Homo sapiens: one gene and its partners. The protein of the gene in region 4 interacts with the protein of the main gene of each other region in a pairwise test. Each region holds a gene or a part of one and is shown on either strand. Other genes may lie near its edges. The genes, in order: CCDC90B, BTG3, COL4A5 and RNF10.

Evidence for each region.
Region 1: the proteins of RNF10 (region 4) and CCDC90B interact in a two-hybrid assay, tested with the Homo sapiens proteins (one large-scale study listed by BioGRID and IntAct).
Region 2: the proteins of RNF10 (region 4) and BTG3 interact in a two-hybrid assay, tested with the Homo sapiens proteins (one large-scale study listed by BioGRID and IntAct).
Region 3: the proteins of RNF10 (region 4) and COL4A5 interact in a two-hybrid assay, tested with the Homo sapiens proteins (one large-scale study listed by IntAct).

Annotation. Positions count from the first base shown.
Region 1 is NC_000011.10:83,279,825-83,283,581, reverse strand, and holds part of CCDC90B (coiled-coil domain-containing protein 90B, mitochondrial isoform 1 precursor), read left to right. Parts: intron 1-3,321; coding exon 3,322-3,441; intron 3,442-3,757.
Region 2 is NC_000021.9:17,606,240-17,609,996, forward strand, and holds part of BTG3 (protein BTG3), read right to left. Parts: intron 2,914-3,757; coding exon of another isoform or gene 2,906-2,913; coding exon 2,733-2,905; intron 1-2,732. UniProt on the Homo sapiens protein: Overexpression impairs serum-induced cell cycle progression from the G0/G1 to S phase.
Region 3 is NC_000023.11:108,694,838-108,698,302, reverse strand, and holds the end of COL4A5 (collagen alpha-5(IV) chain isoform 2 precursor), read right to left. Parts: coding exon 3,382-3,465; intron 3,037-3,381; coding exon 2,864-3,036; intron 2,007-2,863; coding exon 1,925-2,006; 3' UTR 758-1,924; downstream 1-757. UniProt on the Homo sapiens protein: Type IV collagen is the major structural component of glomerular basement membranes (GBM), forming a 'chicken-wire' meshwork together with laminins, proteoglycans and entactin/nidogen.
Region 4 is NC_000012.12:120,537,135-120,540,891, reverse strand, and holds part of RNF10 (E3 ubiquitin-protein ligase RNF10), read right to left. Parts: intron 1-3,757. UniProt on the Homo sapiens protein: E3 ubiquitin-protein ligase that catalyzes monoubiquitination of 40S ribosomal proteins RPS2/us5 and RPS3/us3 in response to ribosome stalling.

The DNA of each region.
Region 1 (3,757 bases), on a different chromosome or scaffold from region 4:
CCAGTTCCTTATGGCTTCCAAAGTGGAGTGAAACCCAAAGTTCTACTGCCAGTGGGTGTCAATACCTACCTCATAGGATTGGGAGGACTAAGCAAAATATTATGTGAATATTTGAGCACATATAAGGAATAATGTTTTACATATCCTTCTGTATTCTCAGCTCTCCTTAACCCCATAATAAATAGAAGCCAAGAGAATAGCAAAGGCAGCCCATGCCTAGATTTTGCTGATTTCATTCATCCTGTCTGGATAACTTCTCTCAGATTTAATATAGTTCTACCATCATCCAAATAGCCATTCTTGATCCTTTATTCTCAAGGAGGGCCAAATGCTTCTCCTTTGTATTATTCATCATTGTGTATACATAATGCCAAGCACAGTGCCTTTCATTCAGCAAGTATCTATGGAGCATCCAGAATTGTGTAGGCATTGGGGATTCAGTAGTGAGCAAGAACAGATGTGGTCCCTGCTCTCAAGGACTGTATAGTTTAGTGCAGGGGTTGACAAACTTTCTGTAAAGAGCCTAATAAATATTTCAGGCTTTGTAGGCTGTAAGGTCAGTCACAACTATTTGCTTTGCCACTGTAGCATGAAAGTAGCCATAGATTAATCCATAAATGAATGAGCTGTGTTCTAATAAAACTATCTAGTTCTAATGAATAAAACTAGAAAAACAGGCGGTGGTAGTCTATGGGCTATAGTTGGCTGACTGCTGGTCTCTTGGGGAGACAACTGAGAGTCACATAAATGTGTAAATTATGAGAGGGTTTGCAAAAGAATCCTGTGCAGTACTATGAAAAACCATCATGAGAGAGACATAACCTAAAGGAGTCATCAGGCTTTCCAGAGGAAGAAACATTCAGACTGAGCTCTGAAGGATAAACATGAGCAGGCAAAGAAAAGGAGAGCTTTCTGAACAGGGCAGGGGCTAGGCAAAGGCCCTGAGAAGGGAAAGCACATGGCATGTTTGTGGAATTAAAATCAAAGAGCCCTTGAAAGCAGAGGACCAGAGAGAGCATAGTAGGACATGAGACGAGCTGCACCCTACAAAGATTTATTGGCTTGTTAAGGTATTTGGTCTCTATCCCAAATTTAGCAGGAAGCTGCTGGTATTCAGAGTGTTTGTTGACTAAGTCAGAGGAACTGTACTAATCTGCCTAGCTATGAGACCATAAGATCTCAGACTAATTACAGACAGTCCTCAACTTAAGATAGTTTAACTTAAAAATTTTTGACTTTACCATGGTGCAAAAACAGTGTGCATTCAGTAGAAACTGTACTTTGAATTTTGATCCTTTCCTAAGCTAACGATAATGCAGTATTCTTGCAATACTGGGCAGGGGCAGCAAGCCGCAGCTCCCAGTTAGCCATTGATCACAAGGGCAAACAACCAATACTTAGTATTGCCAGGGTTTTTGGGTTTTGTTTTTGCATCCCATCGTGTTTACAAAATGCCCATCTGGGTGTCTACATGAAATATTCAACACTTTATTATAAAGTAGGCTTTGTGTTAGATGATTTTGGCCAACTATAGGCTAACGTAAGTGTTCTCGACAAGCTTGAGGTAAGCCAGGCTAAGCTGTGATGTTCAGCAGGTTAGGTGTATTAAATGCATTTTCAGCTTAGGATATTTTCAATTTATGATGGATTTATTGGGACATAACCCTTTTATAAGCTGAGGAGCATCCATACTTAGCCCTGAGCCTCAATTTACCTCATCCATAAAATGAGAATTTTAAGGATGGGGTAATAGATGTGAAAACAGTAAAATATTATTTAAATATTATTACTGATTTTTTTTTTCTAAATCCAAATAAACTTCTAATCAGGAATATGTAACTAAGAGTACCATCATTACTCCTAATGCAGTTGTTATTGAAACTACTGAAATCTGCCCCTTTTTCCTCTAATTTTTCTTTTTCTCTCCTACCTTAGGTCTGATATTTACACACAAAGGCATAGTTCTTTACCCTTCTAGATGACATTCAAGTGAAAAAGATTACTGACCAGTGTACTAATATGTGTGTTTTTAAAAATTGCTCCACCTTTATTTACAGCTACTTGCTTTTATCTCTTCAGTTAAATAGAATTTTTTGGAGTATTTTAATGAATCTTTTATCATTTGAATTTAGAGTTTATTGTTAGATTTTTTAAAAAAAACAATATCTGTTTCCTGCCTTCTAGTCCATAAAATCAGTGAGAATATCATTTATGTCTGGTTTTGCTTATGATTTTATCCCCTATGCCTGGCACAAGTTCTAGCACTCAATCAATATTCATTAGGCTAGAAGGATATAAAGAAGGAATCACATTTGTCCTACACAGTACTAGTGGAAAAATAATGCCTGAAGTTGCAGCCTTTTAAATATCTAGATATTTTAAGTGACTTAAGATACATAAGAGAGACAGCATGGAGTGTAAGATTTGGAGTCAGAAGTACCTGAGTCTGAATCCTAATTCTGCCATTGGCTCTGTAAAGGTAACTCCTTCACCTTCCCAAAAGTTGTTTATGGGCAGGGCACCTTGTAATAAATTCATCAGCAATATATAGAAAAGGTCTTTACTGTGTCTAGGTTAAAACTTGGGGAATTTATTGAAATAGGACAAGAAGGGTTATTTCAGAAATGAGAAATTTTTCTTAGGGTTCTTATGTTGATACCAGTAAATACGTCCATGATTTCAAATCAAATTCATTGATTGAATCAACAGTAAAACTTGGTGGCCCAACTATGTGCCAAAGCACTGTTCTACGTGCTAAAGATACAGTAGTGAAAACCACAGTCAAAGCATCATGGAACTTCCATTCTGATCCAGAGATACAAACAGCAAATAAGATAATTTCATGTTGGAGCTGAGAACTACGTAGGAAATAAACTGTGGATATATAAGTGAGTGGGAGTATGGAAAGCTACTTTAAACAGGGATTAAGTGTAAAAAATTTTCATAGCTCTTTGAAAGACTATTACTGAGCACAGAGAAGAATTGAATTGTGCAGTTTCTGCTTTTCAGTAATTAGAGCTGAGGTGGTGATAACCAAAGCATTTGATGTGTGTTTTATTACAAGTTTATACTGACTCTTAACATTTCTGAATACCAAAGGAGGGAAAAGAAACATTTATTGAATGTTTGGTGTGTACAGAAGAACGTCAGAGACTTTTCAGATAAAAGAGAGGCTCAGAGGAGTCAATTAACTTGGGTGAGATGACAAAACTAGAAGAGCTGGAACTATATTATAAATGGATGGGGAAAATGCTTTGTAAGCTAAAGTAGCTTTGTAAGCTATCAGTTACTACAAAAGAAAAAAATTGTCTTCTCTTTCAGAGTTCTTCACTACCACAACCAAGGAGGGATATGATAGGCGGCCAGTGGATATAACTCCTTTAGAACAAAGGAAATTAACTTTTGATACCCATGCATTGGTTCAGGACTTGGAAACTCATGGTGAGAAACATGGATACCTCCTGAAAGAAGAAAATTAATAGCACTCATAATGCCTAGTTAAGACAATATCACTATTATGAACAATCAAAAGTAACTAAATAGATGTACCATCCATACAATGAAATATTTTATAGTCACTAAAAATGATACTGTTTGAGAAATATTTACTGATATGGGGAATGTTCAAGATATGTTAATTGAAAAAAGCATATGAAATAATATGTGCAGAATTATTCCAATTAAGTGAAAAAAAACTAGAGTTTCTAGGTTAAACTAAAGTCCGTGTGGAAGTACAAATGTTTGAGATTAAAAAATA
Region 2 (3,757 bases), on a different chromosome or scaffold from region 4:
AGAGTTTGAGTAACTTCCCAACATTACACAGCTACTAAGTGATGGATCTAGGGTTCAAATCCAGGCCACTAGACTCCAAAGAGCAAGTTATTTCCTTAATACTCAACCCTGTATATACGTACCTATCTTAGCGTCACCATTAACAATATAACAAAGGCAAAGTGAGAAAAATTATTTTCTAGTATGTAAAATACTGCTTAGTCCTTTTAAAAACATGGTCTTATGCTATAGATTCTAATATTGTATAGGGTAATTTGAAAGATCCCATGTGCTCTGGGACCAAAAGCAGTTAAGGATAAAAAGATATATCTTAGATGTATGTGTTTTTCTTATCTACAATTAAGGTGATACAGGCTCTAAGCTTACAAATTATATATAAATATAGATGCTTAAACAGAGACTATGCTTCAACAAAATCTGCATACCTTACATGTTTTGTACTATTTTTTTTCACTCTACATACTACTTATCCATTAACTACTCTTCAAAAACAAAATTTTAAAAGTTGCATAAAAATATTCTATCATTTACTTAATGTTGACAGTTTAGTTCTTTCCATTTTTGCAATTACAAAGTGTAAGAGACATCCATATTCATACATGTTCGTCTGCATTTCTAATTATACTTCTAGAATAGATTCTTGGGAGACTTACTGTTCAAAAGGTATGAATATTTTTATAGATCTTGATAATATTGCCAAATTGCTCTCTACAAGTATCTTATTTATATTGCAGAAAAACAATTTCAACTTACAAACATTTTGTAAGAGAAAGAACACTCCACCTATTCTACAGACTGAAGTCTCTACTAACTTGGTTAATCTTATATTCTATTCATTTTTATAATAGTAACAACCCACTATTTTTTCTACTTCAAATACAGCTTTAAAATGACTCAGTAATGATACTTCTGATCACATGCCAATTTAATCGTTTCAGTTTTTTTCTCAAGTTTTTAGAATTAATGGAAATGAAATTGTACACTGTCTGACCTTTAAATATTTACTTGACAGTGCCTCCTTTTTCAGTAATAGTATGGTGGCTTGGCACTTCCAAAAAGCCTTCATCCAATGTCAGTTAAATCAGAGTAAAAAGCCTCAACAGTTCTAACTTAACGAAAGCTGTTCACTCTATTGGAAATGAAAATATGCAAAAAAAAAATTAAGATAATCAAGAGATAAGATAAAAAATGACTTGAGCCTGTGTTAGCGTGCACATTTCTATTTTAATTCATTTTCCAATTTACTGGAAACCTCTTTGGATTAAAAATGAAAAGGAAAATAAACTATTTTGATTCTCTTCTTGTCAATAGAACACAAGCTCACTTGACTTTCAGTACATGAGAAATTAGCAAATAATATGTTTACCTCCTTTTTAGACTCCTTGAATAGTGCTGTACTTGCAAGAGCCCAGTGGCAGAAAGGAAGTCCTTCTGACATCAAAGCACAAAGTGTTGATTTGTGTAGGAAACTTTGGGGACATCAATATACACAAATAAAAGAGTATTTCTGTAGTTATCACTATAGTCACTGTTCCACTTTTATTTCTCGTGGCCACATCCACAAAATGGGACAATGTTTGGCAGCTGAGTTTAGCAGAACATTCTCAACTGAGGTTCCTGAGCAGTCACATAAATACTACAGTGAGCATGCCAGGGCATGTTTTATAGGAGTCTGCTCTTCTTTACTTTAAGCTGTAAATGTACCTTATACAGCAGAGTACAAAAGACAGCTCCAAGTGAGAATTACCTTCGTTCTCAGTGCCAAAACAGTGGTAACACTGTGGTGTGCAGAAAGCCCATGAAAACATGGGGTCATGTAGACCTGAGTTCAAATCCCAGAACCTTGGCCAGGCATGGTGGCTCACGCCTGTAATCCTCACATTCTGGGAGGCAAAGGGAGAAGATCGCGTGAGGCCAGGAGTTTGAAACTCACCTGGGTAACACAGCAAGATCCCATCTATACAAAAAAAAATTTGTTTTTAAATTAGCCTGGTGTGTTGGCACATGTCTATAATCCTAGCTACTTTGGAGTCTGAGGCAGTAGGATTGCTTGAGCCCAGGAGTTTGAGGCTGCAGTGAGCTATGGTTATACCACTGCACTCTAGACTGGGTGACAGAGCAAAAACAATACCACAAAAAAAAAAAACTCCCAGAAAAGCAAATCCCAGAGCCATTATTTACTAGTCGTGGATCACAGGTGAGTCACATTCATCTAGAAAATAGTTACACTGACTTCTACCACAAATATATAAATGAGATTATTCTTGTATTAACGACATATCAGGTGTCTGATAATCTTAGTTCCCTTTTTCCATACTTTTTTTTTTTTCAAAGAACATATAACATGTAATTTACTTTTAGATGCAAGATTCACTTCTTTCAACTCCTACCATGCCCATTAATGTGTTATTAGGGGTCCTCTAGAATTGTGAAAATCCCTAAGTATTTGTGATAAACAGAAATGCACTGTTAGGAGCCAGGCTATAACCACAAAAGACTAACTCCTTTGACCCCATAGCATTGGCCTCCTGTGTCCAGGCAGTGGGACTCCACCACTCCGCCAACAAATACTTGTTTTAAAATGAGTAAGGAGAAAATATACAAACACCCCAGAGTTCTATATTTTGCAGATGAAACACCTGTAGGCATGGTCTGCACACCCTTCAATCATCCGGCCTTGAACCCACCTCAGGGGTTGATCAGCCTCTGCTTAATCCAATCTAATCCTTTACCTGTAGGCCTGTCCTTTCGATGGTTTTTCTGGATACCAGTGATTTTTATATTTTTCTTGAAGTATTAGGGTCAATTTCTCAGCAAACCTCTCAACTGCCTCTTTTTTCAACTTATCATGTTTTCGAACTAGCCTTGTGAAAAAGAAGACAACGGCAGCAATTTCATTCTTCATTTTTTTCCCTGCAAAGATAAAACATGTTTTCTCAGAAAAACAAAATATAAAAACTGGGAAGATGAAGCTCTGTAAGATATACCTCCTTTACAGCTCTCCCCTTCCTCCTTCCAATTTTATCTTGTATTTCTTTGGCTTATATCTGAAGTAGAGAACAATCTACTTATCTTTATGCCATAAAGGCCTTATTATAAAATACTACTTAAAAATCTTATCACTTAGCTTCATGAAGAAATTCCATAAAGATAGCACGTTGCTCCTGTTGGCTAAAATAAAACCACACCTATCAGTAAAAGAGAAGCACTATAATAAATGATACGACATAGATGTTACTGTGTGTGTCAATATTTAGCTGCAATAATCTAAGTTTAAAATTCTGTGAAATGATTTGAACTTTAAAACATAAAAAAAGTCTACTTTAAAATCTAGAACTGTAGAGCTATTTTATAACAGAAAAGTTCGGCAGTTCCTAGAAAGGTTAAACACAGAGTTATCATATGACACGGCCAATTCTACTTCTATTTGCCCAAGAGAAATGAAAACATATGTCCACACCAAAACCTTGTACAGAAATGCCCATAGCAGTATTCATAATAGCTAAAAAGTGAAAACAATATGTTTACCAACTAAAGAATGGACAAATACTGTGTTATACACACGTATGGAATATTATTCAGCAATGAAAAGGAATGAGTACTAATACAAGCTACAATATGGGTGAACCTTGAACACAGAAATGCCCACAGCAGTATTCATAATAGCTAAAAAGTAAAAACAATCTATATGTTTACCAATTAAGGAATGGACAAATACTGTGGTATATACATGTAATGGAATATTATTCAGCAGTTA
Region 3 (3,465 bases), on a different chromosome or scaffold from region 4:
CTATAAATGAGAGGGAAAGCTACAAAAAGCAAAATCTCTGGAATTAGTGTTTGCGACTATAACAGAAGGGGCACCTTTGAGTGTACACCATGTAGAAGAATCTGTGGGGCTGTGATATGGTGTTTTCAGTTACAATTACTCATTACTGACTTTATGCATGGGACTAAATGAAAAAATAGAGCTAAAATTTGCGATTGGTGGCTATCCAGAATCAATAAAATAATTAGATAGTTATCATTGTTTGGATCCTAAGTTTTACCACCAGAGATTCTAAGCTTTAGATTTTACATAGGTCCATATTAGGATTTAGAATACTCAAAATTGTTTTGGTTGTTTTATCTTTTAGCTGTAACACAAATTTTACTATGGAAGTTTTTAATATTTTATTTTTAACCAGTCCTTGACTATTTTAGAGAACTATGCGTGTTCATTCTTAATCATTAAGAATATTAGGTCACTAACCTGCTTTAAACATTATTAATGAATTCTTCCCCAAATAGAAGCCAGTTGTTTCCTTTCTTAGCCATTAACACAATGTTGTCAAGAAATTTATTATCTTGGAAATGTCTTCCAATAGGTAGTTTTCTTCATTGGAAAAAGTTTACATTACTATGTTTTCTATCTACTAACAGAGTGATCAAAGCGTGGAGAAACTGATTCCCTGGGAAGAGATGACTTGTTGATGTGCAGATTGGTAATCTATCTGTAAATGAGCAGGGGTTTTTTCCACACAGGCTGAAGAGATACACAACAGACCATCCTTACAACATATATCTTTAATTAAATTTATATTGGTGGGTTTAAAAAACATTAAGTCAGGAGATGATAGCTAGGGAAATAAGGTATCCTGTGAGTATTTATAACAAAATATTTAAAATTTAAAAAGAATAAGAAACATCAATTGGCTTTTTGTAACTTAAAAGAGACTAACCAAGTGTTGTTTCCCAGTTCTGTACAAGCAGAGGCCACAGGAGGATTCTTACATAAGAAGCACAGGGAAAAGAATTGTTAATTCTGCGTGTGTGTTTTTGTTTCTCAGAATTGTTTGGAAGAACTTTGTCCAGTCAGAAATGAGTAAAAACAAGATGTAAGAAACATTAAAACAGGGGGCATATGGTCTTAAGAGATAATCTTGGAGAATATAGCAAAAGACAAATTGCTCCATTAGATATTATAATTTGGTATGTAACATGAACATTTAAAATTCTGATTAAAGTGACTAAAAGGGTTTGTTTTTTAAAAAAAATCAAAACAGAACTTACGGGATAAAACTCAAAATAAATTTACTCTCAGTAGTAACTTGATGTAGGAATATAAGTCCTCTCACTTTGATAAACATGAATATAAAATATTGCTGTCTGTATTCTAGGGTTTCCTACATTTTCTGTAAAGAGTGATTCATGCTATGTCATATGTAAATGACTCAACATTTTGAGCTAAAAGGCTGTTCACAATATACACATTCTTTACTTACAAAGCAAAATAAGCTTAACACCTTTATATTAAAAACCCGGGATACAGCAGGATTAGTAGCACCGTGAAAAATAATTCTTCCCACAAACTGCAGTCTTTTATTTTACTCAATGTGACTCTTCTCTTAATTGAATTTTTAATGTACCATTTTAGTAACTGGGCAAAATATATAATTTTCATCTTATAATTCTTGGAGAAAGTCATTCTGGACCCAAAAAGTAAATTCACTTCCTTATTTCTTTAGTAGAAAAATAATAGAGACTTTGCTCTGGCGCATTGCTGAGGTACATCTGAATCTTCATGGTTACTAGTCAGCATGTTATCTTGATCATATATAGTAGCACCATTGACGGCAGCAGTAGTAAAGTTGGGGACAATGAGACACTGCATCCTAGGAATTTTATATATATATATATCACATTTTAAAACACAAAAGGAATTCTTCAAAATGTTATGTCCTCTTCATGCACACTTGACATCGGCTAATTCGTGTCCTCAAGTCTCCTGCTTTCAGCGTTTCTGACTGAGGTTTACTGGGAAATAAGAAATAAGACAATCAGATCCACATTTTCTGGTATTTCAATTCTGTTACTGGTTCAAATTTATAACTAAACATTTTTTGTGTGTTAAGTAGCTCTCTTGGTGACTTAATGGTTTACTTTTCAGCAATATGATCTAATGCAGTGACTAGTATGGTTTAAGAGCCATTAGTGGTCATAGATATTTTGTAACGATTCTCCCCACCACTATTATCTTTGTATATTTGTGTTTCCCTCTCATTTTCTATCTTTTTCTCTTTCTCTCATACATTTTTCTAATATTCACAGGATGAGGGAAATCTGGGCAACTGATGATGTTATGATAGATAACAAGGACCATAAGAAAAATACCAAGTAGTGATAACCCAAAAGCAACACATAAAAATAAATTTAAACTGAAAAAAATCAACAGAATGAAGTATCCTGAGGTACATACATTACGTATGTCTTGCTCATTCAAACCCTTAAATGAGAATCTTTAAAATATCCTGGGAAAGGAGACCACTGGACTGAGAGGGAAAAGACAGACTGTAACTTCAATTCCTGGGGTGGTCTCAATCTAGTTGAACAGCTGCTGACTTATTAGGAAGGTCACATAACCTTTCTTTATCTCTGTTTCATTATTGAAGGATTACTACTAAGCTATCACAAACCAAACTCACCTAATATTAATAATCAAGTCTGTTTTTCTGACCTGAGTCATGTATATGAGAAGAACAAGCAAGAATAAAGTACACAATCCAATAAATTCCTAACATTTGTTGAGGATAAACCATCCATAAATTGTCTCTTTCTTCCCTAGCATCTCTGAAGGAAGCTTTGGACCTGAATTAAAGCTATAAGCACTTTACCTGAACATGTCTGACACATCTACAGTTGCCAGCCAAAAGCTGTAGGAGTTGGCATAGTAGTTACAGGTACCCCTCCCATGACATTCGATGAAGGGAGCTGAACGAAACTCTTCCAAGCAGGAACCAGGGGAGGCTAGGGCTTGACCTGAGCCTTCTGCCCCTGCACTTGTATGCTATAAAAGACAAGGAAAAATGTGCCGCAATACCCATGTGCCATAATAGCTTAGTGAATATCCAAAGATGTGTGCTGAGCTTGGCCAAATTCAAATCTAGTGAAGGAACAGGCCCAGAGGTAAGACAATAGTATCCACACCAAGGGTAGTCAAAAAAAAGTAATAGGCAGATTATGAAAATATGTTACAAAAAATGTGTGAGGGGGAACACAGTGCTTGGATAGAAGCTGTTTGAAGTTTAAGCTTCTTATTATGCAAATGACAGGGATTCCTCATATTGGGAAGAAATGTAGATGGAATGGACAGTCAGCTATGATGACAAATGCAAGGAAGAGTGTAAAATACCATCATGAAGGAATAACCAATCCACAGAGAATCCCATCCCTGAGGACAATGGGGAATCTGGATCGTCTGACTGTGAACTGCGAT
Region 4 (3,757 bases):
CAAGAGCAAAACTCTGTCTCAAAAAAAAAAAAAAAAAGAAAGTAAACTGGCACTCAGCAAGAAGGCTGTCTTCATTTCTTCACTTATTACCACACTGGCAAGGAAACAGTTTCATAATGCTTACAGAAATGCTCACTGATAAGACAGTAAACTGCTCATTTCCAAAACACATAACAACTGACCACATCATGATTAGTGATTTTAGTTGCCAAAATCAACTCGTTTCTCGTCTTCCAGTTACCTAAGGGTATGAAGACAGATATGTCAAGTGAGAGACTGGCTCTTATCTCTAGACCCAGGCAAAAGGCAGCTAAAGGTTGAAGGTACCATCAGGCCTGGGACCCAGAGATAAAATTCAGAGTATTATTTTTGAAATGTTTTGTGGACAACTTGCCAGGATATACATGGGAAAAACTCGAGGGTAGAACAGGAGTGATAAGATGATCCACTTTAGATTTTGGAAAACAAAAAATATCAAGTTCCTGGGAGAAGGAACTATGGGTGAAGTTTTAAATCTCAGAGTGGTGGTTCTCAATCCTGGCTGCACACCAGAATCACTTGCACAGACTTTTTAAATTATGAATGCCCAGGACCCACGGGTTCAATCTAGGCTTAAAGAATCAGAAAAAGGCCAGGCACAGTGGCTTATGCCTGTAACCCCAGCACTTTGGGAGGCTAAGGTGGGAGGATCATTTGAAGCCAGGAATTTGAGACCAGCCTGGGCAACATGGTGAGACCCCCATCTCTACAAAAAAAAAAAAGATAATAAATTCCTAGGAAGGGGCCCCACACACCCCTATTTTTTTTTTTTTTAAGTTCCTCATGAGGTCAGGAGTTTGAGACCAGCCTGGCCAACATGGCGAAACCCATCTCTACTAAAAATACAAAAATTAGGCCGGTGTGGTGGTGGACACCTGCAATCCAGCTACTCAGGAGGCTGAGGCAGAAGAATTGCTTAAACCGGGAAGGCAGAGGTTAAAGTGAGCTGAGATCGCGCCACTGAACTCCAGCCTGGGTGACAGAGCAAGACTGTCTTGAGGGAAAAAAAAAAGTTCCTGAGGAGATTCTGATGCACAGCCACCACTGAGAACAACTGCCAAGAACTACTGTCAAGACACATTCCAAAATGGACAAGACCACTAAACTCAGGCTCCAGAGTCGACAAATAAATGACTTAAAAACTTAACCCAGCTTCTCAGTTGTTCCACATTTCCCTAATGGAAAGGTCTCCACCAAGTAGCAGTAGGTATATCTCAGCCTCCCCCCATTACCAAATTAAGGGCCACAAGTTTTTCACAGTTAAATTACTTGGCATCTTCATTTCTAGCTCTAGTTCTAACAGGTGGCTCGGCCTAGAGGTCAGAATACCAGTCAGCAAGTTTCTGCTGCTGATTCATGCTGTAATCACAAGCAAGTTGCTTACCCATCATCCAGAGTAGTTGACAAGCACCTCCAGAGGGGCAACATATGGCCTTACTACAGAATCAACTGACAACAAATTGAATCCAGCTGAAATTAGTAATTCTGAATGAAAGGAAGAGAGAGGTGGTATCAGGAATGATGCACATGCCAGTAAGTTATCTGCTTGCTAAGTGTGATTATACAAAGCTTATTGAAAAATACCGCCTAGGACTTCATAAAAATTTACTTGGACAAATCACTCTTAACACTGCTAAGCCTCTATTTTCTTTTCTGTGAAACAGGACTAATATTCTACCATACTTCCTCATAGAATCATGAGGATTAAGAAAGAAAACTTCTGTAAAATGCCTACCATAGTGGCTGACACACAGTTTTACTATGATTTGAAAGCCTATCATTAATAAATCCAAAGCGTTCCTGTCAAGAGCACCCACTAGACTTCCAATGAAGCCATATAAACCAAGGAATCCAGCCAACGGGCCCTGAAATTCTTTTAATTTCTCTAAGTGGTTTTACTGAAGGCTTCAAATCACCTCAATTTTCAAAGCCATTAAAATCTCCAGGTCCATTTACAGCTCAGAGGCATTCTTCAAGGCAGATTACCACTAGTAACCTGGTTTCTGGTACCAGAATAACAGGAAGAATGCCAGGGCAGTGCTTCATACCACCAACCTCAAAATAACTGCCTCATAATACCTGACCTTCCCTTAACCTCCCTGGCAGTTCTATCGGCCCAGGGGGATGGGACAAGAGCCTGGTTCCTGGCCAGAGTCCACTGCCTGCCCATAAACGGCCTACCTTCTCTCTTGCCTCTCTTTCTTTGCTCCCTCTAAATGACTTTCCCCACTTTCTAACCCACCTTCTCTCCTCTGAGCTATATTCACAGGATATTTACTGCTGCATGTTCTCAGAAATACCTATTAACACTACTGGAATGAAGCTGTAGGAATATAATCAAGAAAAGGAATGTTATATAAATGTTCAGGCAATTAGCCCAGGCAAAGAAACTGTGGTATGCGACTCTAGCCGGAAAGATCAAGAAAATCCTGGTAGCCAAATTTACATATTTCCTGTGTACAAATGAAGGGCAAATTTAAGCCAGCCACTGGAACAAAATCTCAAAGAAATTAATCATGTAGCTAGGAAGCAAATGGCCATTAATGACAGTTTACAGAATAGAAACCAAAGGGCTTTCTTCCACGAGGTAGAAAAGGGGGAGAAAAAAAGTGACTTAAATATTTGAATACTGAAAACTCTTGCTCTTTTCACCTTGACAAAAGATAAACTATCTTTTCACCTTACGCTTGTTTTCCCCTCAACTCAGTACTCTGTAATTCAAGAGGTCCTTTCAATGATTCCCAGCAGAATCAAGTATATGAAGTGTTCAGCTTATGAGATACTGCAGAAATCTTTTTATGGGATTATGCGGAGCTTGAGTGTACCCTTTTGTTAGAGCAACCATCTCATCGTGAAGTCACTGCATCAGAGCTCCTGAGTATCTGCTGTAGTAGCACTGGTCTTAGCTGTTACGTTCCTAAGGCAGCTTAGTTTCAACTTTAAAAATCAGCCAATATCCAGTTTCCTAACCTTTTAATCTCCACATATCCTGCCTTTTAATTTGTTCCTAAATGCAAGCAGTGGATTATGGCTAGTGAAGAAGCATGGATTTGGCTACAAAGCCCATCCTTCCTTGCTAAACGAACACGCACAGCAGAAGCCAGAAAAGCAGACACTGGCGGTGGCAAACATGGTCAAGCTTTCTAACACACACATTAAACAAAAAAAAAAGAATGCTGCCTCAAGGCACATATGTGTTATTTGTAAAATCTAACAAAGGGCCTTTACATGAGTTTTTGTTTTTTTAGACGGGCTGGAGTGCAATGGTGCAATCTTGGCTTACTGCAACCTCCGCCTCCCGGTTTCAAGGGATTCTCCTGCCTCAGCCCCCCGAGTAGCTGGGATTACAGGTGCGCACCACCACGCCGGACTAATTTTTTGTACTTTTAGTAGAGACGGGGCTTCACCATGTTGGCCAGGCTGGTCTCAAACTCCTGAACTCAGATGATCCACCTGCCTCGGCCTCCCAAAGTGCTGGGATTACAGGCGTGAGCCACCGCACCCGGCCTACATGAGTTTTTACAGAAGTTTTCTTGTTTTGAGACGGGGTCTCACTCTGCCACCCAGGCTAGAGTGCAGTGGAGTGATCGTGGCTCACTGCAACCTCGAACTTCTGGGTTTAAGTGCTCTTCCTCCTCCCCTGCCTCAGCCTCTTCACAGCTGGGACTACAGGTGCGTGCCACCACGCCCGGCTCATTTATTTTTTTGTAGGACAGGG